Linked DNA regions of Homo sapiens. The protein of the gene in region 2 purifies or fractionates together with the protein of the main gene of each other region. This does not show direct contact. Each region holds a gene or a part of one and is shown on either strand. Other genes may lie near its edges.

The links.
Region 1: the proteins of STYK1 (region 2) and GRAMD1A purify together in Homo sapiens (affinity purification with mass spectrometry; 2 studies listed by BioGRID and IntAct, with this or other methods). This does not show direct contact.

The regions. Positions count from the first base shown.
Region 1 is NC_000019.10:34,995,272-35,008,591, reverse strand, and holds the start of GRAMD1A (protein Aster-A), read right to left. Parts: upstream 8,270-13,320; 5' UTR 8,114-8,269; coding exon 8,106-8,113; intron 7,459-8,105; exon of another isoform or gene 7,348-7,458; intron 3,261-7,347; exon of another isoform or gene 3,042-3,260; intron 2,908-3,041; exon of another isoform or gene 2,684-2,907; coding exon of another isoform or gene 2,661-2,683; intron 1-2,660. UniProt on the Homo sapiens protein: Cholesterol transporter that mediates non-vesicular transport of cholesterol from the plasma membrane (PM) to the endoplasmic reticulum (ER).
Region 2 is NC_000012.12:10,666,990-10,683,552, reverse strand, and holds the start of STYK1 (tyrosine-protein kinase STYK1), read left to right. Parts: upstream 1-9,500; 5' UTR 9,501-9,587; exon of another isoform or gene 9,588-10,037; intron 10,038-16,097; exon of another isoform or gene 16,098-16,264; intron 16,265-16,563. UniProt on the Homo sapiens protein: Probable tyrosine protein-kinase, which has strong transforming capabilities on a variety of cell lines. When overexpressed, it can also induce tumor cell invasion as well as metastasis in distant organs.

The DNA.
Region 1 (13,320 bases), on a different chromosome or scaffold from region 2:
ACCTTGGCCTCCCAAGTGCTGGGATTACAGGTGGGAGCCACCGTGCCCAGCCTACTTTAATTTTTTTTGAGACGGGGTCTTCCTAAGTTGCCCAAGCTGGTCTCAAAATCCTGGCCTCAAGTGATCCTCTGGCCTCAGCCTCCCAAAATGCTGGGATTACAGGCATGAACCACCGTGCCCAGCCCATGTAAAGTAATTCTAACAGAGCATGGCACATAGCGAGCTCTCAAAGACACCTGCTGTTTTATTTTATTTTATTTTAAGACGGAATCTCTCACTCTGTCACCTAGGCTGGAGTGCAGTGGTGTGATCTCAGCTCACTGTAACCTTCGCCTCCTGGGTTCAAGAGATTCTCCTGCTTCAACCTCCTGAGTAGCTGGGATTACAGGATCACACTACCATGCCTGGCTAATTTTTGTATTTTTAGTAGAGACGGGGGTTCACTATGTTGGCCAGGCTGGTCTTGAACTCCTGACCTCAAGTGATCTGCCCACCTCAGCCTCCCAAAATGCTGGGATTACAGGTGTGAGCCACCGCGCCTGGCCTATACCTCCTATTTTTAAAATTAACTTACTGATTCATACAACAAATATTTATTGAACAGCGACTTTCCACTCAGTTGTCGGAGCTAAAACCCTAAGCATCTTTCTTAATTTCTTTATTTTCTTCATCTCTCATTTCAAAATCTATTTCCATTATTTATTTTTATTTTCTTTTTAGAGATAGGGTCTCGCTCTGTCACTCAGGCTGGAGTGCAGTGGCACAATCACGGCTCACTGCAGCCTCGAGCTCCCGGGCTTAAGTGATCCTCCTGCCTCAGCCTCCCGGGTAGCTGGGACTGCAGGTACACACCACTGTTATCAGCTTTTTTATTTTTAAAAAATTTTTGTACAGATGGGGTCTAGCTATGTTGCCCAGGCTGTTCTCAAACTCCTGACCTCAAGTGATCCTCCCACCTTGGGCACTACCAAAGTGCTGGTATTACAGGTGTGAGCCACTGCACCCAGCTCTATTTCTATTATTTTTATTTTTTTGAGATGGGGTCTCTCTCTGTCGCCCAGGCTGCAGTGCAATGGCATGATCTCGACTCACTGCAACCTCCACCTCCCAGGTTCAAGCGATTCTTCCGCCCCAGCCTCCCCAGTAGCTGGGATCATAGGCACCCGCCATCATGCCCCGCTAATTTTTGCATTTTTTGTAGAGACAGGGTTTCACCATGTTGGCCAGGCTGGTCTTGAACTCCTTCCTGACCTCAGGTTATCCGCCCACCTCGGCCTCCCAAAATTCTGGGATTACAGGCGTGAGCCACCGCACCCAGCATCCGTTATTTTTATTATACCCATTTCTCCCTGCTCCAGCCTCCATCACCTCCAGCCTGGACACCCCAGCAGCCTCTTCACTGGTGTCCTACAACCAGAGGAGACCTGTGACCATCTGAGTCAGGTCTGAGCCCTGCCCTGGGTGCACCTCACTCCAGGTAAAAGCAAAGACCTCACCTTGGTGTGGTGATTTGGCCCTGGAACCTCACTGACCTCATGTCCTCCCTCTCCCTGTCCTTCCTCTCCCCTGGCCATCCCAGCCTGCTTTTGTCCCTAAGCTCTCCAATCTCATTCCCACGCCAAGGCCTCCACATTTGTAGTCCCTCCGCCTGAATGTCCTTCCATGGCCCCGGCATCACCAGCTCTGTCCCCTTCAGCTCAAATGCTCTCCTTCCGCATCATCCAGCCTAAGGCAGGCACCTCTGTCGCCACACCCCAGGCTATCTGGAGTGTCCTGCTTGTTTACTGTTTGTTTACTGTCTACCCAGACTGTGACCTTCAGGTCTTGGTTACCACCGGGTCCCTAGAGCCCAAAACTCTAGGCACATAGTGAATGCTCAATAACCACCAGAGGCTAAATGAATAATCTGCACGCTGGCTGGAGCTGGCATCAGTAGAGCCCGCAGGACATGGCCCCTGCCCTTGGGGAATGAGCCTTCTGGTGGGGAGGCAGACACTGAACAAACAGGACACTCCCAACTTCACTGTGCAAACACGAACTGTAATAAGGACTGTGGGGATGGCGTTGGGAACTTTAAAAGGACATTCTTTGTTGACTCCTTATCAGGAAATATGTCAAGCTCTCCGTATGATTAACCGTATTATTTCTCAAGCCGGTGCCTTTGATATGATTCACCATCCCTGCTTTACAGAGGAGGAAACTAGCTCAAAGCGGCAAACCACTTGCCATAGGATACGGGCCTGGTTTCTTTCTTTTTTCTTTATTTTTTGGAGACAAAGAGTCGCGCTGTCACCCAGGCTGGAGTGCAGTGGCACTATCTCAGCTCAGTGCAACCTGCGCCTCCCAGGTTCAAGTGATTCTCCTGCCTCAGCCTCCGCAGTAGCTGGGATTACAGGCACCCACCACCATGCCCAGCTAATTTTTTGTATTTTAGTAGAGACAGGGTTCCACCACGTTGCTGGTCTCGAACTCCTGAGCTCAGGCAATCCACCTGCCTCAGCATCCCAAAGTGCTAGGAGATTACAGCTGTGAGCCACTGCACCTGGCCATGGGCTTGGTTTATTTCAAGGCAGGATTCCCATTTAGGGGCCTTGATGTATTCTGGGGTGCAGGTGGGATTCCCTCCACCACCTGGGGCAACTCAAAGTTGTCTCTCTTACCTCCAAGCCTTAACATATGCCATTCTGTCTGTCCAGATCGTAGTTCTTCTTTGCCTAGCAAATCCTTATTTGTCCTTCAGGACTTTGGCTCATGCGTGACCCCACAGTCCCCTGGGCAGCTCCCATCCTGGACTACTCTGGGCCGTCACTGTCTGATGACAGGTCCAAGTCCTTCACGGGTCTGTGGGTCACTGCTCTGTCCCCAGCACAATGCGGGACAGGATGCAGGGTAGGCACTCATGTAACACTTGTAAAATAAATTTGTGGAATAAAATACGTGAATAAAATAATTAAACAGCCAGTGGCCCAGGCCACTGCTTTTCCCCTGGGCCATCCCAGCAGCCTCCTCCCTGGTCTCCCTGTTCCCATCCCTGCCCATACCTGTAGTGGGAGGGAGCCTGGGATCATCTGAGTCCATCAGGGTCCTCCTGGGTGGTCCCTCTCTGCCCTCATCAGCCCTGCACTCCCTCTCCCAGCTCCCGCCTTGGTCGGTGCCTCTGCTCAAAATGCCCTTCCTCCCAGACATCCACATCCACATCCACAGGGCTCCCCCACCTCCCTCAGGTCTCTGCTCAGTGGACACCTTCCCTACCTCCCTATTTAACACCCCCTACCCCGCCTCCCGATCCCCCTCCCTGCTCTCTTTCTGCAAAGCAAGTCTCCCTGCTGCCTCCCGGGACCTTCAGTATTTCCCCCTAGTTCTTATCCTTCTCTCCCCACCCCCAACCCCCACCCACGATGTTGAGTGTCCCCATCACCTAGAGCAGGGCCTGGCGTACAGGAGGTGCTCCGTGAGCACATACTGTTGGGGATGGCCTGGGTGATCGGCCCTCCTTCCCCGCCCCCCATAGAACTTGGGTTCCAGCAGGTGCACGACTCCTTGGACCCTGCAGGTCTCCAGGGCAGCAGCCTGGAGTGTGGGCCCCACAGTCCAAGGACCTTCCAGTCAAGTGCCACCGCGTCCTTTCTGTGTGACCCTGAGCTAGTGTCTGAACCCTCCTGTGCCTCAGTTTCCTCTTGGGTATGATGGGAATTAGTGCCCACCTCCTAGGGTTGCACAGAGATGGAGGTGAGGTGAGATCCACAAAGCCCAGTACCTGGAGGGCACCTGGTTTAACTACGCTGCTTTCCCTCCCACAGGGACTGGCGGACTAAGATGGAGTGTACAGCGCGGCTGCCAGCCCAGTGCACCACTGCCCATGACGCTCTGCTGACCCTGACAGGGACCTCACAAGCACTACGCCTGATGTTAGGCGCCTCCATGACTGACCCTCAACTCCAGCCTTTCACCTCTAAATACCCTGCACCCGCCACAAGGAAGTGAGCAAAGCCCATACAAGCCCCTGCCTGCAAGGACCTGACGCTGAAACAGGGAAACATAGACCGTCAGTAAGAAAACAAGTGAGCAGGGATGGCGACCTCAGACACTGGTGAACGCCATAAAGCAATGCTGCTCAGTATGAGCCCCAGAGAGCAGCAGGCAGGACTTGGAAAGTGTTCAAAAGGCAGAGTCCAGGACCCACTCCCAACCTTCTGAATCAGAACTGGGGTGGGGCCAGAGATTCCGACGCACATTCAAGTTTGAGGACCACAGAGATAAGGGATGGGACAACTAGGGGGGCAGAGATGCTTTTTAAATTTTTTTTAGAGACACGGTCACACTCTGTCACCCAGGCTGCAGTACAGTGGCAAAATCATGGTTAACGGCAGCTCCGAACTCCTGGGCTCAAGGAATTCTCAATCCTCAGCCTCCCAGGTCACTCCAGGCCCGAACTCTTGGGCTCAAGCGATCCTCCAGCCTTAGCTTCCCTGATAGCTGGGACTACAGTCTCACACCACCATGCCTAGCTGATTTTTAAAGTTTTTTTGTAGTGATGGGGTCTTGCTATGTTGCCCAGGCTGGTCTCAAACTCCTGACCTCAAGTGATCCTCCCACCTTGGCCTCCCAAAGTGCTGGGATTACAGGCATGAGCCACTGTGCCCAACCAATTTCTTTAGTAACAGTCAGCAAAAGCCTTCCTGAACAAAGCCCACTTGTTCACCTGAGGACAAAGAACACATGTGGCAAAGGCTGGGAGAAGACTCCAGGTGGAGAACATCAAGCTCAGGGACAGGACTGAGCCTGGCAGGTCTGAGTGTGAGTGAGGTGGCCAGTGGGGCTGAGGGAGTAGCGGAGGTGCACAGGCCTGGTGACCCTAGTCAGGAGTTTGGCTTCACCCAGACAGCACTGGTGAGCAGGGAGAGACTCCTAAGCAGCAGGACCACATCCTCCCCTGCCTGCTTTTCTCAGCCCTCTAGCCTGAAACACAGACCTGCCCTACTTTCCCGCAGCCACAGATCTAGGGGCAGGGCCTGGGGGCCGGAATCCTGAAGAGAGGCTCAAGGCACACAGACAGGGCAGGGACCACGCCCCCAGTTTTTGCTCCAGGGCTGGGCAAAGAGGAAGTACTCAAGGGCGGACCCTGCGGCTGCCCAACCAGGATAGCTGAAGGCAGAGTGAAGGGAGGAGCCTGGGGGACTGTTATAGGGGCGAGGAGACTCGGAAGGGATGTTGTTTTGCTTCCGCAGACACCTGACCTCCAACTTCCTAGGCCCCAGTGGACCCAGAGCAGCCTCTGGTCAGAAAAGGGCGGATGCATCCACAGGTGTGCATAAAAGGGAAACTCAATGATTGTCACACAGTAGGTGTCAGGGGTAAACTGCATTTCCCTACAATTGCAAGGAGTCTCTTTCCTCTCTCTCTCTCTCATATGCACACACACACACACACACACACACACACACACACGCACAGAGCAACAGCATCATAGGTATGCTACAGAGAGCCACAGAGTAATTACACACACACACACACACACACACACACACACCTGCAGCATTGCTAGTCTGCTACAGTCACATGGCAATTTCCCAGAAAAGTTATCCAGACACATGCATGTGTGCACACAGACACAGAGCTGCAGAGGGTCACAGAAACATACAGCAACCCACAGAAAGTCCCGGATAAATTATATTCACACACATAGCCACGAGGAAGTCTCAGCAAAGAGCCAAAGACAGCCATACAGTGAAAGACCAGTCCCAAAAGACCCCAGGTGACACATACATAGTCCCAGGTAAATCAGGTCCCACGGTCAGCCAACACATCCCCACTGAGTTGTTCCCGTGCCCGCACTGGGCTCACCATCTGGCAGGGAAGACAGAGAAAAGGCTACTTCTAAAGTGGCAAGGGGCTGGGCGCAGTGGCTGATGCCTGTAATCCCAGCACTTTGGGAGGCCGAGGCGGGTGGATCACCTGAGGTTAGGAGTTTGAGACCAGCCTGGCCAACATGGTGAAACCCCATCTCTACTAAAAATACAAAAATTAGCCAGGTGTGGTGGCACGCACCTGTAATCCCAGCTACTAGGGAGGCTGAGGCAGAAGAATCGCTTGAACCCAGGAGGCAGAGGTTGCAGTGAGCCGAGATCGTGCCACTGCAGTCCAGCCTGGGCGACAGAGCGAGACTGCGTCTAAAAGAAAGAGAAAAAGGAAAAGAAAAAGTAAAGTGGCAAGGGGTGGAGGTGTCAGTGGCTGTAGCTGGTGGAGAGCCCTGATGCTCACAGTCAAGCAGGACTTGGGAATAATGCAGCCGAGCAGGGCGTGGATCTCGAGGACACAGTGGCCAGGTAGTGGAATAATGCGTGGCACATGCTATACTAACTGTAACAGGTGGACAACGTCAGTTATCATTATTGCCTCCAAAGTGCCCTGGGTACTCCCAGGGTCTTAGAAGGGAGGGTTCCAAGCCTACAGAGAGCCACAAGGGGTCTCACACTGTTCACACACACACAAAACCACAGAGGGTCTCAGCTGTACACAGAGAGGCCTAGGCACCACTCAATACTGTCACAAAGGAATACACAAGGGAATGTTCACACAAAGATGGAATCAAATTAAGTTACAGCCACACTCACAGAGCCCCAGACACACAACAATGTCACAAATGTAACTTACATTGGCACACAGAGCTAAATGAGAGTTTCAAGCCAGGCGCGATGGCTTAAGCCTGTAATCCCAGCACTTTGGGAGGCCGAGGTGGGTGGATCACCTGAGGTCAGGAGTTCGAGATCAGCCTGGCCAACATGGTGAAACCCCATCTCTACTAAAAATACAAAACTTAGCCAGGCGTGGTGGCACACGCCTGTAATCCCAGCTACTCAGGAGGCTGAGGCAGGAGAATTGCTTGAACCCAGCAGGAGGAGGTTGCAGTGGGCCGAGATCGTGCCACTGCACTCTAGCCTGGGCGACAGAGCCAGACTCTATTTCAAAAGAAAAAAAAAAAAAGAAGAGCGTTTCAGAGCTAAATTACAGGCATATGCAGGCACAGAGGGTCATGGTAGAACCCAGAGCCCCAGGCACACTTGTACACACACCACTAAGTCACAATGGGACGCACACTGGTAACTTACAGCAACGCTTGGAGCTACAGATAGAATTAATGGTAAAACACACACAGCCCAAGAAGGATCAGAGCTGCTACACACGGTAACTCCAGACACATGTACAAACACTCCAACGTCACACTCAGACACACAGGGGTAATTTATATTTGCACAGGGAGCTACAGATGGAATGAGACACAACACGCACACAACCAGCTGCTCACAGCCACAGATTTGGAGCCCCAGACACACACAGGTAACTTACAGTGACACACAGAGCCGCGGTCAGAATTAGTGGTTAAGTTACACGCAGGAACTCTATCAGAGGCCCAAAGCTGCTGCAGGCTAGCAGCCCCAGACACACGTACACACACTTGCAAGACAATTCACAGTCGGAAGCACATGCGCCCACCTGGACCGGAAGGGGAGTAAGAAGTCAATTCCGAGCACACAGGACCCCCCGCCCTCCATGACCTCAAGCACGCGGTCCTGGAGAGACGCAGGAAGCCCCCACCCCCGGCAGCCCCGAGACCCGCAACAGCCAAGGACGGTGGGAGGGGGCCCAGGCAGGAGGGGGCTGCCTACTCCCGGCGCGCCCAGGGCTCCGCGGCCTGTGGGCCTGGGCTGGTCCCGATCCTGTCTCCATCCCAGGCCGGAGCCCCAGTTCGGCCTCGCGCTCACCCCTGGCTTACCAGGCAGGGGGTTGCCAGGCCTGAGGGCCCTCCCCGCCAGATGAACCCGCGGGCCCCCAGCCAAACCCCGCAACCCAGTGCGTCGCGGGCCGGCAGTGGCGACCCAGACCCCGGGCCCTGCCCTGCGTCCGCGCCCCACTCCCCAGCTGCACCCCTCGCCCGGGGGCCCCCTGCCCCGCCCCCACCCCGATCGCCCCGGCCAGAGCCATGTGCAGAGGCCCCCGACCTCTGCAGCGGCCGCTCCGCCCCCTCCCCAAGCCCGCGGCGCCCCCTCCCTCCGGTGGCCTCCCCCGCGCGCCCGGTCCCTGAGCTCTAGTCGCCCGGTCCTTACTCGAACATGGATGCGGCGCGGTGGGCGCGCCCCGGGCGCAGGGCAGGGCAGGGCAGGGCAGGGCTGGGCTGCGCGGGGCTGGGCTGCGCTGGGCGTCCCCGCAGGGCACCGGCCTGGCCTTCCGCGGCCGCCGCCCCCACCCGACCCAACCGCCCGCACAAAAGGCCGGAGCCGCCGGAGGCCGCCGCGGCGTCAGCGACACCCCCTTCCTTCCCCCGCCCCGCCGCGTCACGGCGCCGCCCCCAGCCCGGGAGGGAAGGCGGGGAGGGGCCGCAGAGGCCTAGAAGGAGGGAGAAGCCGGGGAGAGAGGGACTGGACAGAGAAGGGAAAGCAGAGGGGCAGAGAGACAGAGAAGGAAACAAAGAGACTTTATTAAAACCAAACATCGTGGAGGCAGCTGCCTGCCCGCAGGTTGGGGAGCCCCCTCCCCTAGTACCTAGAAAAGGGTCCCTAGCAACTACTATGCCCCTGGCCAGAAGCTCCTGGACCTCCCAGGGAGGAACCTGAGAGCCGGGGCGAAGGTGGGGGAGGACTGGAGATGCTGGGAAACCGAGGTGTATGTATGGGGGAGGGGGCCTGAAGCTGGCGGGAAGGGGTGGGGCCGGTTGGCCGCCTCCTCCTTCCCTCTCCCAGTCTCTGAGCCCGGGTTCCTGGTCCCAGGAGGTCCGGTGCCTCCGTTTCTAGGGACTTCCCAGTTTTGGTCAGCCAGGCCAAGTACCAAGTCAGAATCCAGCCTCCCTGGCTCTTATCTGTGCTGAGACCTTGCGCTCATCACCCCAGTGCTGGGAGTCCCACTAACTCGGTGGTAAGGGCTTTTCCCGGGGACAGCGCAGGAACGGGCAAAATCAGTCCTTTTACGGAAGGAGAAGCCCGGCCTCTAAGATGGGAAGTGACTTGTTGGGGTCACCTGGTAGGTAGGCGGCAGAGTTGGATTCGATCCTGCTCTGACGCCATAACCTGCGTCCCCCCTCCCCCGCCCCGTCTGCAAGAGGTCAGAGTCAGGTGGTGTCCTGGACTCCTGGCCCAACCACACAGAAATGCGAGTCCCACCTCACAGCTCCGGGGCTGTGGCTCCCCAGCGCTCTCCAGGGTACGCTGTCCCCGCCTCTTTTGAAAAAACTCCCTTCCCAACCCTCTCCATCAACCCTTCCCCTCCTCCTGCAAAAGAAGCCCACCTGACTTCTCCATTTTGATGAATGGCAGGCCCAGAACTTCAGAGTCTTTTCTGACCCTCTCTTTTCCTTCACACCACATCCAATCCGTCACAAACTGTGGGCTCCACGTATAAAATCAATCGCTCCATTCTAAACTCTTCTTCCTCCGCTGCCCACGCCCTGGCCCAGCCTCCATCCTCTCCTGCCTGATCTCCCTGCTCCCATCCCTGCCCCTACTGTCTGTTCTCACCTGCAGCCAGAGAGAGCCTGGGACCACCTGAGTCAGTTAACTACCCTCCTGGCTCAGAGCCCTGCCCCAGCTGTACCTCACTCCAGGTAAAAGCAAAGTCCTCACCTTGGCACCCAAGGCCCCTGTCAGCTCTCTGACTTCAGCTCCTCATCTCCCCCTGGCTCACACCCCCCATCCAGCCTACCCGCTGTTCTTCTAACTCACCAGGCACCTTCCTGCCTCCTACCCCAAGACCTTTGCACTGGTTATTCCCTCTGCATGGACAGCACCCCCCCTATCGCCGTGCCCTACCTCTCATGCTAACCCCCACCTCTAAAACCCCCATCCACCATCTGACATTTGCTGCCTCCCACCGGCCAATGGAAGAGAGGCCCTCCTCCCACCACCTTCCTCTGTCCAACTGATCTCTTTAGATTTCTCTTTGGTCTGTTTCTTCTAGTGTAATGCTTTTAGTTTTTTAATTAAATAATATTTATTTCAGGTCAGGCGCGTTGGGTCACGCCTGTAATCCCAGCACTTTGGGAGGCCAAGGAGGGTGGATCACCTATCAGGAGTTCGAGACCAGCCTGGCCAACAGAGTGAAACCCCATCTCTATCAAAAATACAAAAAAATTAGCCAGGTGTAGTGGCTTGCACCTGTAATCCCAGCTACCCAGGAAGCTGAGGCAGGAGAATTGCTTGAACCCGGGAGGTGGAAGTTGCAGTGAGCCAGGATCGCACCACTGCGCTCCAGCCTGGACAACAGAGCAAGACTCCATCTCAAAAAAAAAAAAAAAAAAAAAAAGGAAGAAAATATAACAGTCCTCTATGTCCCCTGTACCTATATAGAATAGATGTGGACATTTTGCCATTTTGCTTCAGGTCCTTTTTTTAAAAGAAATAAATGATTACACTTACAACCAAAGGCCTGGCTCCCCATCCCTCCTTTCCCTTCCCGTGCCCCCCAAGGAGCCTTCTGCCTGCCATGCAGTTGGTGTGTTTCCTTCCTGCGCTTTTTTTTTTTTTTTTTTTTGAGACAAGGTCTTGCTCTGTCGCTCAGGCTGGAGTGGTGCAGTGGCTCGATCTTGGCTCACTGCAGCCTCCACCTCCTCGGTTCAAGCGATTCTCTTGCCCCAACTTCCTGAATAGCTGGGATTACAGGCATGCGCCACCATGCCTGGCTAATTTTTGTATTTTTAGTAGAGATGGGGTTTCACTGTGTTGGTCAGGATGGTCTTGAACTCCTGATCTCAGGTTAATCTGCCCGCCTCGGCCTCCCAAAGTGCTGGGATTACAGGCATGAGCCAGCACGCCTGGACCCTGTGTACTTTTCTGTCCTTTTTCTACATCAGGAGGCATCCACCAACACTATCACCTATTATCCAGTATCTTTTTAAAAAGATACACGATTAGGCTCCCTCTGTTTCATTTGCAACTTGCTGTCCCCCATTATCATTGTTTCTGCGATTTCTCCACATCCATGCACAAAGCTCTGCTTCCTAAACTTTAACGCTTATGGAGTGTCCCTTGTTGGAAGAAACCACAGTGGCTGCTTGTTCTATTCAGGGTCGGTAGAGTTCTTTCCTCTTCCCCCTATGGCCCTGAACCTCCCATTTCCTGTCTCCTTGTACCAGAGATAGTGTTTCTTTTCAGAAGTTTTGTTTAAACTTTCTTTTTTTCTTTGTTTTTCTTCTTCTTCTTTTTTTTTTTTTTTTGTTTTTTTGGCCTGTGATCTACAGCAGGAAATACCTTTCACATGGGCTTCCAGCACGCACTTAGAAATACACATAATGCCACAGAAGTTGTAAGAAACCACACTTACCCTCATTAGGCCTCACGCATGGTGTTATTTGCAATTCTATTTTATTTTGATTTGGATAAAGAAGTGCTGATTGCGGCCGGGTGCCTCATCTCACAATCCCAGCACTTTGGGAGGCCGAGGAGGGTGCATCACCTGAGCTCAGGAGTTCAAGACCAGCCTGGGCAACATGGTCAGACCTCGTCTCTACTAAAAATACAAAAAAAATAGACAGGTGTGGTGGTGCACATCTGTGGTCCCAGCTGCTGGGTGGAGGGGGGAGCAATGGAAGTTGCAGTGAGCCAAGATCATGCCACTGCACTTCAGCCTGGGTGACAGAGAGATGCTGTCTCAAAAAGAAAAAGACAAAAAACAAAAAACAAGGGCTGATTGCAATTCACTGTATTAGTTTTATGGCCCTTAAATGGGTCTTGACCTACAGTTTGAAAAACACTGGGTGGGGTCCCTCTCCACCCATCCACTCTTTTTTTTTTTTTTTTTTGAGACAGAGTCTTGCTCTGACGCCCAGGCTGGAGCAGTGGCGCAATCTCGGCTCACTGCAACCTCCGCCTACCAGGTTCAAGCAAACCGCCTGCCCCAGCCTCCTGAATAGCTTGGATTACAGGCATCCATCACCATCGCTGGCTAATTTTGTGTTTTTAGTCAAGATGGGGTTTTACCATGTTGGCCAGGCTGGTCTTGAACTGTCGACCTCAGGTGATCCACCAGCTTCGGCCTCCCAAAGTGCTGGGATTACAGGCGTGAGCCACCACGCCCGGCTTCCCCTCCACTCTTACTAGGCAGAACTCAGCTGAGCTCAGTCATAGCTGGTTGTCCCAACGCACACCCTCAGTTTTTACCTTTTGTTTGTGCATCTGTTTCGTGGCTTTGAGTCAGCCCTCTGTGGGGCTAAGGTTGTGCTCTGACCCGCAGCCACAAGGAACCCACCCTTGACAGAGAGAACCCTCCCTAGACAGAGAGACCCTCTTTCCTGTCCCACTGCCCAGGTCTGACCTGTCCTGGGACAGACTCTGCGGGTCTGGCATCCTCTGCTGCTGCCGGCGTCGGGGGGTTGGGGTGCAGGCGGGGGACTCCCCATCACTGGATGGCGTTATGTGAATGATGGGCACCTCCAGGAGCTTCCAGGACTCAGAGGCCAGGCCCTGGGCCCTGTCACCCTGTGGCTGCTGCTTCCGCTGCCCTGCTGGGAGGTCAGGCGAGCCCTGGGGACTGCCCTGTGCCAACAGGGTCTCCCAAGGCATCAGGGGCAGGACATCATCCATGGAGAGGGTCTGGAACAGCGGTGTGGTCTCTGGGAAAGAGAAAAAAGAGATGAGGGATAGAGCTCCCGCTTAAGCCCCCTTACCACCTTCCCCCGTGGCTCCACTAAGAGAAATGAGCTATGATTAAGAGCACAGTTGGGGACCAGGCGCAGTGGCTCATGCTTGTAATCCCAGCTCTCTGGGAGGCTGAGGCAGAAGGATCACTTGAAGCCAGGAGTTTGAGACCAGTCTGGGCAGCATAGCAAGACCTTATCTCTACAAAAAGTTAAAAATTAGCTAGGCATGGTGGCACGTCCCTATAGCCCTGGCTACTCGGGAGGCTGAGGCGGTAGGATCACATGAGAATCCCGGAATTTGAGGCTGCAGTGAGCTATGATTGTGCCATTGCACTCCAGCCTGGGCAACAGAGCGAGACCCTGTCTCAGAAAAAAAAAAAAAAAAAAAAAAAAAACCCGTGATCTGAGAGTCAGAGAGATCTGGGTGGGATTACCACCCCTGCTAACCTCATTCCCTTATGACCCCAAGCCTGTTTCCTCTTTTGGAGACTCGAGATCTGATAGGACCCTGCAGGGTGGCCAGGCAGTATCTGGAGGGCTCTGGCATGCATGGGGCTAGGCCAGGGCCCCAACACAGTAAGTGCTCAGTTAATCCCATTTGCCTGTAGCTGGAACTGAGGTTTACCGAACCACATAGCTCCTCTCTCATCTGTGGGAGGCCTGGGCTATTTTTTTCGGAAAGCCCTGGGTGTTCT
Region 2 (16,563 bases):
TTTAAATTTTATAAGTATGTAAATATGAGAGAATTCATAAATGACTAATTTATTTCAGCAACCAAAACATTTAAAATTAATGGTAATGGCCGGGCACGGTGGCTGACATCGTGATCCATCCGCCTCAGCAAAAGCAAAATTAGCTGGGTGTGGTGGCGCGCACCTGTAGTCCCAGCTACTCGGGAGGCTGAGGCAGGAGAATTGCTTGAACCCGGGAGGCAGAGGTTGCAGTGAGCCAAGTTTGCACCACTGCACTCCAGCCTGGCAACAGAGCAAGACTCCGTCTCAAAATACATACATACATACATAAATAAATAAATAAATAAATAAATAAATAAATAAATGGTAATATGTTCAAAAACCCATCTTAAAACCCCATAACAGGTGTTCTTTCCAAAAAAGTTTCTTTTTACCCATTGTGAAAACATCATGTTTACCTTGAAGGTGTTTATTTTTACAAAATTGTTTGCAAAATTGTTTGCTGTTTATCAAAGAATAAACAGCAAAGTGGGAAACTTGACTTTGTGTAAAGGGAAAAATGAATAGTATTTTGAATGTGATAACTCTTGAGTATTTTGACAGATGACAGCAGTAAAAACAAGTAATTATAATTATTTCTCCTGTCATTTTTTGGTATTGCTAAGATCATACTATTTATTGGTTTTTATTTTATAAACTAAACCACACTGATATCATCATAGGCTACATTATGTTAAACAGGTACGAAGAAATGCATCTTGCACATTAGCAACCCCTTCATTCACGTATTGCTGTCCTACTCACCAGGATACTAGATGAATATCTCATCTTCCATACATGATACACAACCCTCTGACATACAGACCCAGTGAGGGTGCCACTGTCATTTCATGATATAAAATATTAGTAAATTTTAGTAAAAGCTTATTTTCATATATTTCAAGACAAAAATACAAGCAAATATTTATTTTTTCCTCTGGTTTACATATTACCCACGAAAGTAACCACAATATCAAGCATTGTAAATATACTATCTTTTACCTTTACTGAAAGACATACTATTTCCCTTTTACTGATGTGGAAAACAGTGGCTCTTGCATCCTAATACGTTTGCATTCCTCAAGATAATTAATGCTAGCTGCTGTAATCAACAATCTTCAATTCCAGGGGCTTAATATATTTTTTTCTTGTTTGTTTGGTTTGGTGGCTCTCTCCGGGCATTTCTCCTTCCAGTAGCTACTTAAGAATAAAGTCTCCTTTACACTGTGGCTCTATCACCTTTAACATGTGGTTTCAGCCTGTTCTGCGGTCATCCAGCCAGTAGGTAGGGAAATGAGGGAGTCCCTGGGCTTCAGACTGGAAGTGACACATCACTAATGCTTATGGTCTTTGGACAAGAGCTAGTTACATGGTCCTATCCAGATGAAAGGGTGCTGGGAAGGTGCACCTAGAGGGAAGAAATAGGTGAGGTGGGCAGAACCTACCACAGTCTCTGCCACAGTTCCAAAGCATGAACTGTTTGGAGGTGGATTTAGGTTTCAACCATGGTCTTTCTGATTACAATATCCATGCTTTTCTCTTCATGCTACATTGTCAGTGCAAGGCAAAAGGAAGAACCCACGAAAAGACTAACTGCCTCTTCATGCTGCACTTCGTAGGGGCACAGCTTGATGAAAATGAGATCTGTCTTTAGCTTTGCCCGTTCATAAACTTTACTAATTTTTAGTTCCCCAAGGATTGTTTAATACTATGTTTGCAAAAATCATTTATAAGAAATGACATTTTAATAACTTTAAAAAACTTCTTGGGTTTATTGAATTTTTCTCCTTCCTATTCTAGAACAACTTAAGATGCTTTACTCTATATAGTATACGATATACTATATATACTTTATACATAGTATACTGAAATTTATTACAGTATATATGGTAAATATATTTACTGTATTTACATAGTATATATAATTAAATTTACTATAGCATTTATAATATAGTATACTATATATAGTATATACTATAGACTATATTTACTATACTATATACTATATATTTACTGTATGCTATATTTATATTTAATATATACAATATTTACTATATACTACATATAGTAAAGCATCTGAAGTTTTTATTATATATATAATATATATACATATATATGACACCAAAAGATAAAATAAGTAAATTGGTAAGATAATGAAGTAAAGCGCAAATAGGTTGAAGTTAAAACTGAGGTAGAGCACAATATGTTAGCCATGAATCCTATACATAATAGAGTGGGTCATAAATTTGGTTCTGATATTTTGTAACAAATTTACTTCTAAGAAATACAAGTAGCTATAAGGTGAAATGCATCTACAAAAAGAGTCAAATAATTTGCTTCCAAAACGTGCAACTACACCTCTTACTTAACCCAAAAGGAAATATATCCCATGGATCATTGACTCATTCACTCATCCATTTAATAAACATTTATTAAGGGGCTATCATGTACCAGATACTGTTTTAGGTTTTGGAGATACTTCTGTGGACCAAACAAGACCCTGTCTTTACAAAGTTAAGGAAGAAAGACGATAAATAAAGAAGTAATTGTATAGTATGTTTGGCGATGGTAAGCACTGAAGGGAAAATAATGGCAAGGATGACTATATGTGCCAAGATGGAGTGGGGTTGGGTGGTCAGGAAAGGCCTTACTGATAAGATTACATTTGATCAGATACCTGAAGGAAGTGATGGTGGTGGGTAGCTGAGGAGAAATCCAGAGTGTTCTAGGAACAATAAATCACAAGTGCATTGCTCCGGGAATATGTTTAGAGTTTTTGAAAGATATTGGGAAGCCAAGGAGACACAGTGTCCTTGGGGAGACCTAGGGAAGGAAATACTGGGGATCTTGCCTTATGTAGTAATAGCAACCTTATGCTACACAAAGTGTTCACATCATGTGATAAAAGCATATTTCTGCTTGGTAATGTTGAATATGTAACAAATTTCGCTCTGGGTTTTTTTTTTTTTTTTCTGGACTCTATTCAGACCACGGCATTATTATGAAGAAAACGAATCCTTGATGAGATTTGGGCTTCCTGATCTCAATACATTTCTTAATTACCTCTTAGAGGCTTTAGCATATGGTTATATTTTTTAAGTTGATTTTACTAGCAATTTTTATGTATTTGGGTACAAATATGTATTTAATAAAGCATTTAATTTGGCAAATATTGACTTTGCAGCTGACTTTCTGTGTGACTACAGATGAGACACAATCACTGAATCTCAATAAAAATTACATGTTTTTTTACAATAGCTGTCCTCTCTGCCTCACTAAGGTTTTATAGAGCTCTAACAAAATGATAAATCTGAAAGTAGTTTGAGACTTCATTGTAAGACCATCACTTTTTCTGATCTTCCCATGTTTGACAAACACGCCCTGGCACTTTGCAAGGGTCTATAAATACTGACAAATTGGGGTCTCTGTCCTTAGGGAGAATATAGCCTATTAGAAGAAACAGACAAGGAAACTACAAATGAGAAACGCTCTGGTACCGAGAAGAAAGAAGGATAGTCTGCATAGGAGAGGATTCAGAGTAAAGTTGAGGGACCATTTACTTCTCAGAGGTGAGCTGCATCCTAAAGAACTAGGAGGAATTATTAGGTAAGTTAGGAGGGGAAGGGCATTACAAGCATAGGGAACAGACTGTGCAAATGCTTGTCAGTTGAGAGGATTTAGTACTTGTTTCTTTGGTTTTTGTGGGAAAAATGAATATGTAGTATGATTGGTGGATATTAGGAAGTATAGATAAGGTGAGGGTTAAGGGAGATTCACCATCAAGAAATTTTATTTTGTAGTGGTGTAAGAAATCTTCATTAAGAAATTTTATTTTGTAAAGATTTTAAATGGGGATAGGTATTGCATGGTAAGACATACTCATTGGAAAAAATATGCTGGCAATAAAACGAAAAATTAGAAGGTGATACTGAGGAGTGAAGGCCAGTTGGAAGAATCTTACAGAAATTCAGGCAGGAAAAGAAGAGGGGTGAATTCAGATAACAGAAGAGAGAAAAGAGACAAGATAAAGAGAGATTTAGAAGGTATGACTGTTATTGATATTTGATTATGTGAAATGGAGGCAAAAAGATTGAAGAGCATCCATGTGGCATTTCCCAGCTTCCTGATTTGAGCAGCCCAGTGGATACAGTATTCTTAACTTGAAGCTTATAGTCCATTAGGGAGGGCAGTAGCTATTTGGAAAATCATATTTAAAGACTGCTTATTGAATAATTAGTACCAACCTTTAGATAATTATTTAGTGGTATTGTAAAAACTCTGTTCTTTTTACCTTTATCAATGAAGTAGGTAGAAATAATATAAAAAGGGTGCTTTTTTAAAAAAATCAAGTATATAGTTGAAGATATCTCAGTAATATAGCTAGAAAGGGATAATGTCAGAATTTTGATTCAGAATTATTTTTAATGTTTTACCTGAAGGGGACTGAGATGAACAAGATAAAGTGTTTAAAAGATAGATGTACAATCCACTATAGGTTGCATAAGTATAGATTAATAGAAACCTAATTTATTATTAGCAATATTAGGTAATAATATGGCAATTAACACTTATGTACTGCTTTTGATTTTCAAGAAATATTTTTCAAGTATTTTTTTTTATTTGAACTTTCAACAACTCTCTGAGTTGGGCCTTTTTTGTTTCATTTTACACGTAAACAAATTGAGGGTTAGAGAGGTTAAGTGTGAGAACAAACTTTCTGATAACCAGGCGTTATGAATGGAATAAGCTGCTTGTTGGCCGGTCCTCAGCACTGAAGAACTGTAGACAAAGCTGGATGTCTACCTGCTAGAGATGTTCCACAGTGTGCAATAGCTCTAGCAGGAGGGAGTTAGGGGGAGATGAGATTTTGCATTCAATGATGAGAGGATCATAGAGTATGAACCCTGACAAGAACCTGAGGCTAATGTAGTCTAACCTTTTCATTTTACAAGCGAGAAAACTGAGGCCCAGAAAGGTCAACTTGCTCAAGCTGATGCAAGCTCTGGAATCTAGCTGTAGGTCAGTGATCGCTAACAGTCATGCTAAACTGAATGATTCTTTGAGAATCCTGAGGAAAGAAGGAAAACGAGAAGAAAAAAATGAGTGGCCCCAAATGGTTGACATAATATCCTTAATTATCACATTTTTTTAATCCATAGGGAGAACGAATGTTCTTGAGGAGAATAAAAGTAGTTGGCAAGTGGTATATGTTTTTATGGTCAACAACATTTTTTAAAATTTATTTTTTATTTTATTTTATTTTATTTTATTTTATTTATTTATTGATCTTTTAGTATTTACAGGAAACAGAGACTACAAAGAGGTGTAAGACATGGACCTTACACCGCAAGCTCTTCCAAGCAATATGTGGTAGGCAGAATAATGGCCCCCAAATATGTCCACACCCTAATCCTCAGAACCTGTGATTATGAGGCAGGAGAACAGGGTCTGAAGGCAGGAAACCTAAGACCGATTGGCTCTGACTTCCTAGAACTGAATCAAAAGGAAAACCCCACCTCTCCACATCCAAGTAACAAAACGATCAGAGGCTACTTCCTTTGCAACTCCCCCCTCCACCCTTTTCTGCCGTTGCAGATGAAAAATGAAAGGACCTCCAATTGGTCTCCTCCTGCAACCAATCAGACTGGTTGCAGGCCAAGTCTTCATGTGTAAATTTGTAACTTCACTTCAGCCTCCAATTGGTCATTTTGCACCACCAGTCAGACTGGTTGCTGGCCACTACTTTATTTACATAGGGTTTAAACCAAGTAACAAACAGGAAACCTCTAGAGAGTATTTGAACCCCAGAAAATTCTGTAACCAGGCTCTTGAGCCACTTGCTCGAACCTGCTCAGTCTGTGGAGTGTACTTTTATTTTAATAAATCTGTGATTTTCTTTCATTGCTTGTTTGTGCCTTTTGTCCATCCAATTCTTGGTTCAAAACGCCAAGAACCTGGACACCCTCCACCGGTAACAATTATGCTACCTTTAATGGCGACAGTGACATTGTAGACGTGAATGGAGCTTCACAGAAGAAGATTATCCTGTGGGCCCAATCTACTCATCATGTGAGTCCTTAAAGGTGGAGAAACTTTCCGATCTGTGGTCAGAGAGAGCAGGACACACAGCAATGACAGAAGGGTCACAGAAACACACACCTGATGTGAGAGGACTCAACCAGCCACTGTTGGCTCTGAAGACGGGGGGATCAAAAAGGCTATCAACCAAAGAATATGGGAGACCTTTATAAGCTGGGAAAGGCAAGAAAACAAATTCTTCCCAGGAACCTCTAGAAAAGAATACAGGCCTGCTAATACCTTGATTTTAATCCACATAGAATTTTGTTGACTTCTGACTTACAGAACTGTAAAATAAAACATTTATGTTGTTTAGACCACTAAGTGTGTGGTAATGTGTTATGTTAGCAATGGAAAACTAATATATAAGGTAAAAAGAAACAACATATACATGGAAGCTTACCAATGATCAATATTCTCTAGGGTATACCAACCAGGGTTAAACATGAGGTCATATGAATAGTAATTTCCCATACTCTGTCGCCGCCTTTAGTTGGTTGCAGAACCTCTGTTGTTTCTTAAAAGATCTTTTCCCCAACTGTCCCTGAAGATCCTCAAGATAGTAGAGGACCTCATAAATTTTCACAATCCCAAACCCTAGCGGCTACATAGAATCCACTCTTTTCCTTGTCTTAGATTTCTTCTGGTGATGTCTATTGTTCTCTAAATGCCTGGGAACTCCATTTACATGCCAGGCATTGCTGCAGCAGTGACTCTACTGCTGACTTTGTTTATAATTTTCATCAGAGTGACTCTGATCCTCTGTGCCAGTGCAAGCCTTTCAGGTAAGCCTCAGGCCCATGTGGAGCTATCTCCTACTGGTAGCCACTGCTTGCCCTTTTGTGAAAGTTGAACTGCATTTCCAGATAAAGTTGGAAGAATTCACCTGCCCCGCTTTTGTGTTATATTCCCTTGAAAACAGTTCCAAAGCAAAGCTACCTTGTGTACACAAGGTCTCATACGGTTTTGTTGTTGCTGTTGTATTTTTCTGTGAAATAACTCTACCAGTTGTACTTGAGAGTCCCCTCTCACTAGGACTCTGTTATTGCATACGGGCTTGGCCAAAGGACATTGAGATGCAGACCCAGCGCTGAACCCCAAGCTATTCTTGTTAGTGGAAAATACCTTTGTGCTTTGATTTTCTTTTTTCTTATAATGAGTGACTTTCCAGGAATTCCTCCATGCCTTCCGTAAATAGATTCCACCCCACTAAACCAGTAGATTCCTTCCTCACAACTGCAGAATCATACAAGAGGGAATATACTAAGTAACACATGGATGGATGGCTTTAACAGTTTAGAGGAGCGCAGGATCTGGCAGTTAGGATTCATGTAGGCTAAACTGGAGAAGGAAGAGATCTCCAGTGTATATTTCAGTGTGACTTCCCACTACCGTTCAGTACTTAATCTGGACAGAGAGATAATGGGCATTCAACAAATTCCTATGGAATTAATAATGAGGCAGAAATAACGATCTGGTAGAAACACTGGGGCCAAAGCATTGTTGACAATGAGTTGGAGGCTTATAAATTTGAGATGGAGGTAATAATTGAAATTACAAGGGAATGAAAACTTGAAGAAAAAAGAGAAATAATGGATATTCTAACCATCTTATTAATGAGTATAATGTGTGGGACTAGCTATACATATATAACTCCTGGTGAATGTCTGCTGTGTAACTCAGACTATTTGGTACTTAGTTGTTTCTGTGTGTGGGCATTATCATTTCCAGTGTTTTCTCTAACTCAAAATGTTTTTAATGTATAATTTATGTGATTTGCTCAAAAAAATTGGAGAGAAAAATTTTGCCTCCCCTTTCTGGATTGTATTTTGGTTTCTTTTTTAACTTCTATTTCTATAATAGTAACTAGATTTTAGACAAAATTCTGTGCATCAGAATGAGTATCTAGCAATACATTGCAGAAATTTTAAAAATGAGTAAACCACTTTATCTGTCATGGAGGAGCATGCTTGGGGAGGTAGAGTAGAAAATTACATAATATGAAGTTCCAATCAGTTCATTTGGATTTGATGTATCACTTATGACATAAAGAATCTAAAGAACAACTAACTGATGAGATGTCTTCCTTTCCCCTTTTGAGGTAAAATTCACATAACATAAAATCAACCATTAGCCATTTAAAAATGAACAGTTCAGTGGCATTAAGTACAATTCATCCTGTTTTTAAAAAGCCCTGAAGGAAGTGAAAATGCCAATAGAGAAAGCTCTAGAGAACTGACATACCTCAATCTCTAAATATGCCACATTACATTGACTCAAGTTCTTTTTGCTCTAATGACTGTCAGTTTGTGTTTGGTATGCGTTCAATGCTGAATAAATTGGTCACATATTCAAGTTACCTATGACTCTTATTTCTTTAATTGAATTTGTATTAGGTGTTAATATCTAACAGAATTCCTTCAGCTATCTATTGTCTTAAGTATTTTCTATTATTTTAGTTTCCATGTGGACGGGTAACATAACTACCTTGTTCACTGTTTCCCCAGAGGAGAACCCAGGACATAATGGGATATATGTGTGTGTGTGTGTGTGTGTGTGTGTGTGCGCGCGCGCGCGCGCGCGGGCTCTAAATGAATGATCTATTACGTAATCTTGGGGTTTTAATTCTCATTAATTCCTTATAGGTTCCCCCACGTCTCCGCAGTGGTCAGTACTTTTTTTTTTCTTTTTTTTTTTTTTTTTTCTGAGACGGAGTCTTGCTCTGTCGCCCAAGCTGCAATGCAGTGGCACAATCTCGGCTCTATGCGATCTCTGCCTCCTGGGTTCAAGAGATTCTCCTGCTTCAGCCTCCTGAGTAGCTGGGATTATAGGCGCCCGCCATCACGCCTAATTTTTGTATTTTTAGTAGAGACGGGGTTTCGCCACGTTGGCCAGGCTGGTCTCGAACTGCTGACCTCAGGTGATCCACCCGCCTTGGCCTCTCAAAGTTCTGGGATTACAGGCGTAAGCCACCACTCCCGTCCCTTCAGTATTATCTTGTAACACCCCGGCAAAGCCTTCAGGTGGAGAATGTTCCTGGCGCGGAATAATCCACCTGAATGTGAATCCTGACCATTTTTAGGCGCCAATGGAGGCCGCTGCTACGGGGCCGGCCGTGAGGTGGCGCTGTTGCCCTGTATCGTGACTCCGTTTTCACCTGGACTGGAGTCACCGTGATACCTGACATCTAGCAATCACTAGAGTAGGAAATGAGTATAGATCAGCAACAAGTCCAGCCTTTACAGTTGCAGCAGAGGTTTCCTGTGGCTCGAGTGTGGCGAGTCCCGGAAACCTCGGAGCCCGCAGACTTCCCTTCGCGGGAGCCCGCCCGAACTCCATCCTTTGCCGGCAGCCACGCCCCGCAGTGGGAAGGAGGGACTGAAAAGCATTTCCTTGAGGCTGGCACACCTTGCCCTACCCAACCCTGTCATTATTTCCCCTCCGACTGGGCCGGTGCCATCGGAAACCGGAGTGACCAGAGGAGGGACACGGTAGTGAACGGGGTATGGGGGGCGGGCGCGGCGGGGAGGGTAAAGAAGGTGGGAAGGGAATGGCAGCGAGGCAGCTGGGGGAGGACTTTGCAGTTGGGGAGGGAGAAAAAGGGAAGAGGCTGGGAGCGGAACGGGTGTTTATGTGAACAAACAGAAATCACCAAGTGAATTAACCTGTGTTTCTTCGGAACCAGCATCTTGTGGGGTTTGGCTTCTGTGTTTCTATATGATAAGGGAGTAAACCTGACTCAGCAGATTTGGTGCAGAGAGAAACATGAGAAAACCCAGGAATGGGGGACCTCTGTTTATTCCTGGAGAGGGGGCCATCAGGAGAGGGGGAAGGGAAAGAATGAGGTTACAGGAATTACTTGTCAGAGGACTGCATAGCCTTTCAGACCATGGAATCGTTGCTTTCAGCTTCGGCTTCCTCATCTGCAAAGCATAAATACGGTAATTACTTTCCAGGGTTGTTGCGATATTTAAATGAGATATCAATAACCATGCTTTAAAAGTGTACAGCCTGATGTGCTATCCCTTGTTGACTGAATCTCTGTTTTCTTTCCTTCTTTTTATTTGGGGTGGGGAGTGGGGGAGGGAGTCTTGCTCTGTCACTCAGGCTGGAGTGCAATGGCGCGATCTCGGTTCACTGCAACCTCCGCCTCCCAGGTTCAAGCGATTCTCCTGCCTCAGCCTCCCAAGTAGCTGGGATTACAGGCTCCCACCACCACGGCCGGCTATTTATTTTTTTGTATTTTTAGTAGAGACGGGGTTTCACCATTTTAGCCTCTGTTTTCTTTTCAATGTCTTTTTTCCTCTTTCATTTTTCTCTATCAACCCTTCATCCCCCCTTTCTTTCTTTCATTTATGCGATTGTTGCTTCCTTCTGTAATGGGTCCTCTCCACATTGGAGTTTCTTATACCTATGAGACCACACTTCCTTCCCACTCGGTGGGAAGTAGTGGCAATAAAGGAGTCGAGTTACTGTAATGTGCAGCACAGCTCAACTGAAATACACCTGGAAACAGAACTCTGTGCTGTCTACCTGGTTTTTCCCCCTCAATGCACCGGAATCTCCACTGACAGCTAGCTAGGGGGCAGCTAGGTCTTTCAATGAGACATCATGAAGTATTTGCTTCAATGAAAATCATATACTTTTTCGTTCAGTGCCTCCATTACTGTGTGAGTTTGCTAGGGCTGCTGTAACAAGGTACCACAAACTGCATGGCTTTTGGCACCAGGCACCAGGGACTGATTTTGTGGAAGACAATTTTTTTCACAGATGCCGATGAGGTTGGCGGGAGATGGTTTCAGAATGAAACTGTTCCACCTTACGTCATCAGGCATTAGAGTCTCATAAGGAGTTCGCAACCTATATCCCTCACATGAGCAGTTCACAATAGGGTTCACGCTCCTATGACAATCTAATGCTAGTGGGCACGGTGGCTCACACCTGTAATCACACCACTTTAGGAGGAGTTGGTGGGTGGATCGCCCTGAGTTCAGGAGTTTGAGACCAGCCTGGGCAACTTGGCGAAACCCATCTCTACCAAAAATACAAGAGGAAGAAAAAGAAAGAAAATCTAATGTCGTGGCTTATCTGACAGGAGGAGGAGCTCAGGAGGCAATGACAGCGATGGGGAGTGGCTGTAAATGCAGATGAAGCTTTGCTGGCTCACCTGCCTCTGATTTCCTGCTGTGCACCCCGTACCTGTCGGCGCCCCGGGTGTTGGTGACCTCTGGCTTAAACAACGAAATGATTTTCTCACAGTTCAGTAGGCTGGCTATCCAAAACTAACATGTTATGAAGCCTGCATCTATTCCAGGCCTCTTTCTTTGGCTTGTAGATGGCTGTCTTGATGTTTATATGGTGTTCTCCCTGTATATATGTCTCTGAATTTCCCCTTTTTATAAGGACACTAGTCTTATTGGATTAGGGTCCATCCTAATTACCTCATTTTAATTGATTATCTCTGCACTATCATCTCCCAATAAAGTTACATTATGAGTTACTGGGGGTTAGAATGTCAGCATATTAATTTTGAGAGGGTGTACAGTTCAACCCTTTAACAACTAATGTCTTTAATTATGCACAAGTTAGTTGAGCATTGCATGTATTTCAGTTTTCTCTGGCAGAAACTATTTCCCACCTGTCCCAAACCCTCACAACCAGTCCCAACCAACATGTGCTCCGAAGATCTGCCAGGAGTTATGTGATTCTGCAGCTCTGTTTTCTTTTAACCTGAGTGTGTACATTTCCTGTTGCCACTGTAACAAATTACCACAATGGTGGTGGCTTTAAACAACATAAAGTTTTATCTTACAGTTCTGGGGGTCAGAAGTAAAAATGGATGGGCAGGTTTCCAAATGGATGGTTCTTTTTGGAGGCTCTAAGGGAGAATCAATTTCCTTGCCTCCTTCAGTCTCTAGAGGCTGCTACAGTCCTTGGCTCATGGACCCTTCCTCCATCTTCAAAGCCAGGAATGGCCGGTAAAGTGTTTCTCATGTCTTATGCTGACGCTCACTTTTGCCTTTCTCACACTTAAGGATTCTTGTAATTGCACTGGACTCACTGAGTATTCCAGGGTAATCTTTCTATTTTAAGGTCAGTTGATTCATTCCATCTGTAACCTTAATTCCCCTTCGCTATTTCAACGCTATTAAAAATCAACATGGCCAGGCGTGGTGGCTCACGCCTGTTAATCCCAGCACTTTGGGAGGCTGAGGTGGGCGGATCACGAGGTCAGGAGATCGAGACCATCCTGGCTAACAAAGTGAAACCCCATCTCTACTAAAAATACAAAAAATTAGCTGGGCGTGGTGGCGGGCGCCTGTAGTCCCAGCTAATCAGAGGCTGAGGCAGGAGAATGGCGTGAATCCAGGAGGCGGAGCTTGCAGTGAGCTGAGGTCGCGCCACTGCACTCCAGCCTGGGCGACAGAGCCAGACTGTCAAAAAAAAAAAAAAAAAAAAAATCAATATATTCATAGGTTCTGGAGATTAGGACATGGACATCTTTGGGAAGCCATTATTCTGCCTACTGTACCTGAGCTTTCCCAACTGGGTATTCTTTATTTTTATTATATGTATATTTAAAATTTATGTTTAATTAAAAAAATTAAAAATTATATATATATTTATCATATACATGTTGTTTTGAAATATGTATATATTGTGGAATAGTTAAATTAAGCTAATTAACATAGTATTATTTCACATATTTTTGTGATGAGAACACTTAACATCTACTGTCTTAGCAATTTTCAAGAATACAATACATAGTTATTAACTGTAGCCACCATGTTGTACAATAGATCTCTTGACCTTATTCCTCCTAACAAGGAGGAATAAGGTCATACCCTTTCATATCCTTTGACGTCTTTCTAACCCCTCGAATTCCCCCAACCTCTGGTAACCATCTTTCTATTCTCTACTTTTATGAGTTCAACTTTTTCAGATTCTACATATAAGTGAGTTCCTATGATATTTTTCTTTTCGTGCCTAGCTTATTTCACTTAACATAATATCTCCTGGGTTCATCCATGTTGTCAATTTCCATTTTTCAAAAGGCTGAATAATAGTTCATTGTGTTTATACTGTATGTATTTATACTTTATTCATTTATCCATTGATGGACATTTACATTGATTCCATCTCTTGGATATTGTGAACAATGCTGCAATAAACATGGCGTGCAGACAGCAGTATGTGAAATCAGACACACTGATTTCATTTTCTTGCTATCTATACACAGAAGGCAAAACATTGAGCCTTCAGAATAAAAGTAAGATAATATACTGAATAAAGAACATTATATACAAAAGTCAGATCACTATTGGATGTATACCGAATAGTGGGATTGCTGGATCATATAGTAGTTTACTTTTAATTTTTTGAGGAACTTTCATACTGTTTCCCTAACGGTTGTACTAATTTACATTCCCACCAACAGTGTGCAAGCATTCCCCTTTCTCTATATCCTCTCCAACACTTATTTTTCATCTTTTCGATAATAGCTATTCTAACAGGTATGAGGTAATAGCTCATTTTGGTTTTAACTTGCATTTTCCCTGATGATCAGTGATGTTGAATATTTTTTCACATATGTGTTGGTCATTTGTGTGTCTTCTTTTGAGAAATGTCTATTCAGGTCCTTTGTTCATTTTTAGTACAGTTATTTGTTTTCCCCCTATTGTTTTAGTTCCCTATGTATTTTGGATATTAATCACTTACCGGATATTAATCACTTCTCAGATATTTCTACCATTCCATGGGTTATCTCTTCACTCTGTTGATTTTTTCCTTGGTTGTGCAGAAATTTTTTAGTTTGATGTAACCCCATTTGTCTATTTTTGCTTTTGTTGCCTGTGCTTTTGGGTTTATGTCCAAAAAAACATTGCCTAGCCTAATATGATGGACCTTTTCTCTGTGTTCTCTTCTAGTACTTTCACAGTGTCAGATCTTACATTTAAGTCTTTAATCCATTTTGAGTTGATTTTTGTACATGGTGTTCTTTATTGAGTATATTATCTATTTTTATTCTGAAGGCTCAATGTTTTGCCTGCTGTGTATAGAAAGCAAAGAACTTTAAATCTTTTTTCTGAAGAAAAACAACCTGCTTAATGATGGAACAAAAAATGTGTCCCTATCGAACAGAAACCTGGGTACCATGTACTTGCTATATATACTGTTAAAAACTACTCCCCATTCCCCCTTGTACTTTTAGTATTATAGCTTAATCCTTTATGCCCCATTAGTTTCTATAGGTTATTTTTCTATAAAAATTTCTTGCAGATCCAATGCTATTTTCATAGATGAATTAGCTACTTATTTATTCAACAATCATATGAATTCTGATATATGCCAGACACTGCTCTTGGTGCTAGGGATACAGCAATGAACAAAATAGCTGGTCCCTAAACTTTTATTCCCATGAAGGTTTCATGCTTTTTCTTCTTCCTTTGCCAGTTCATTTTTGTCCTCCCCACCAGCCCAGGCTCAGCCAGTCTCTAGTTCTCCAACATGCTTTCTGAATTTAGATGTGGCTACTGTTCTGTGCCTACTTCTGGGCTGGGCTAATGAGGGACCTAAAGAAGCTGACTGTGCTCTCCAGGAAATTAAAGTCTTGTTGGGAAGAAACAGATAATAATAGGCAAACTGGTTAAGTACTGAATAAGTAGGTTGGGTATTAGATATCATGTCTTGGCATAGTGTCTAACTGGAGAAAGTGAAAGTAGAAGGGAACGAATGTGCACAAAGGTAAAGAAGCTAATTACGGCTGGGTGCAGTGGCTCACACCTGTAATCCCAACACTTTGGGAGGCTGAGGCGGGCGGATCACCTGAGGTCAGGAGTTCGAGAGCAGCTTTGCCAACATGGTGAAACCCCATCTCTAGTAAATATACAAAAAAAAAAAAAAAAAAAAAAAAAAAGCCAGGTGTGGTGACAGGTGCCTATAATCCCAGCTACTCGGGAGGCTGAGGCAGGAGATTAGCTTGAACCTGGGAGGCGGAGGTTGCAGTGAGCCAAGATCGTACCACTGCACTCCAGCCTAGGCAACAAGAGTGAAACTCTGTCTAAAAAAAAAAAGAAGAAGAAGTAGAAGAAAAAACAGCAGCAGCAGCAGCAGCAAATTACACAGACAGACAGTGTAGAGTGGACAGAGTCCTCTCTCAGTCCGGGGGACCTGAAATCCGTTTTAAGCTCTGGTTCTCTCTTTGTGAGCAAACAGCAAGGCACCTACCTCAGGGGTCCTTAGTTGTTTTATTATTATTTTTATTCCTTTTGAAAAATGGAGGGTAGAGTTTGACTGGGAAATTGCTGGAGATTCTTCCAGGTTAAAAAAAAAAGTATTTTATTGTTGAACTTCTCAGAATTTCTTTGAGATTTCTAACCAGAATAATAATAAGATAGTTTAGAGTTTAGAAGAGACAGTCACCTCTGGATACAGAAAGGATAATGGGGATGGAGTAAGGGGTTTCTATCCATCCGTTGGCTTAAAGCCTCATTTCCTGCAGTTGTTCTCACCTCCTCAGCCCAGGTGTCCTTCTTCACTAGCTTTTCTTCCCTATACCTTCTGCTGAATTGGGCAGTTAGAGTTCAGCCCTATCATATTGTGAATACTACCTCCTAAGGGTGAGTCTTCAGGAAACATAAACATTTCCTGATGCTCACTCTTTCCTTAGCCCCCAGCAGTCTAAGTCGTATCCAAGCTTCTGAGCATTATGTGCTTCCCTGAAAGCCATCTCAATCAGTTTTCTCATATTTCTCATTCATAATAACCCTTCTTGGCATAGTGACAACAAGGAATATCAACAGTTAATTTGTTTTGTTTTGTTTTTTGAGATGGAGTCTTACTCTGTTGCTCAGGCTGGAGTACAGTGGGATGATCACAGCTTGCTGCAGCCTTGACCTCTCAGGCTCAAGTGATCCTCCCATCTCAACCTCCCCAGTAGCTGGGACTAGAGGCATGCACCACCACGTCCAGCTAATTTTTGTATTTTTTTTTTTTTTAAGAGACAGGGTCTTGCTGAAGACCCTGGCTAACCAGGCTGGCCTGGAACTCCTGGCCTCAAGTGATCCTCATGCCTTCATCTTCCAAAGTGCTGGGATTACAGAAGTCAGCCACGGAGGTCAGCTGACAGCTAATTCTTAACAATTGACATGGTCAGAGCAAATCGAAGGTAGTGTTTTAACTTTTATGACCCCAAATTTATATTTTTATGCTTTAAATTACTGGCTAAAATAAAAAATGAAAAGGAAACCTGTTTTAGTTTTTTCCTCTGTAGCTGTTAACCTTTATAACCTCAATAACTAGCTCCATCTTTATACATTTAAGGGTATTTTTAAAAATTGTTAGATAACAGTATATAGGAATATGGTATTTTTAGAATATTGATCTAAATTAAAATTATGTATATAATTCTAGGCTAAGTTAGAATTCTAGTAAGACACAGTAGTAAATGCCAAAGGTTTAAGGGAA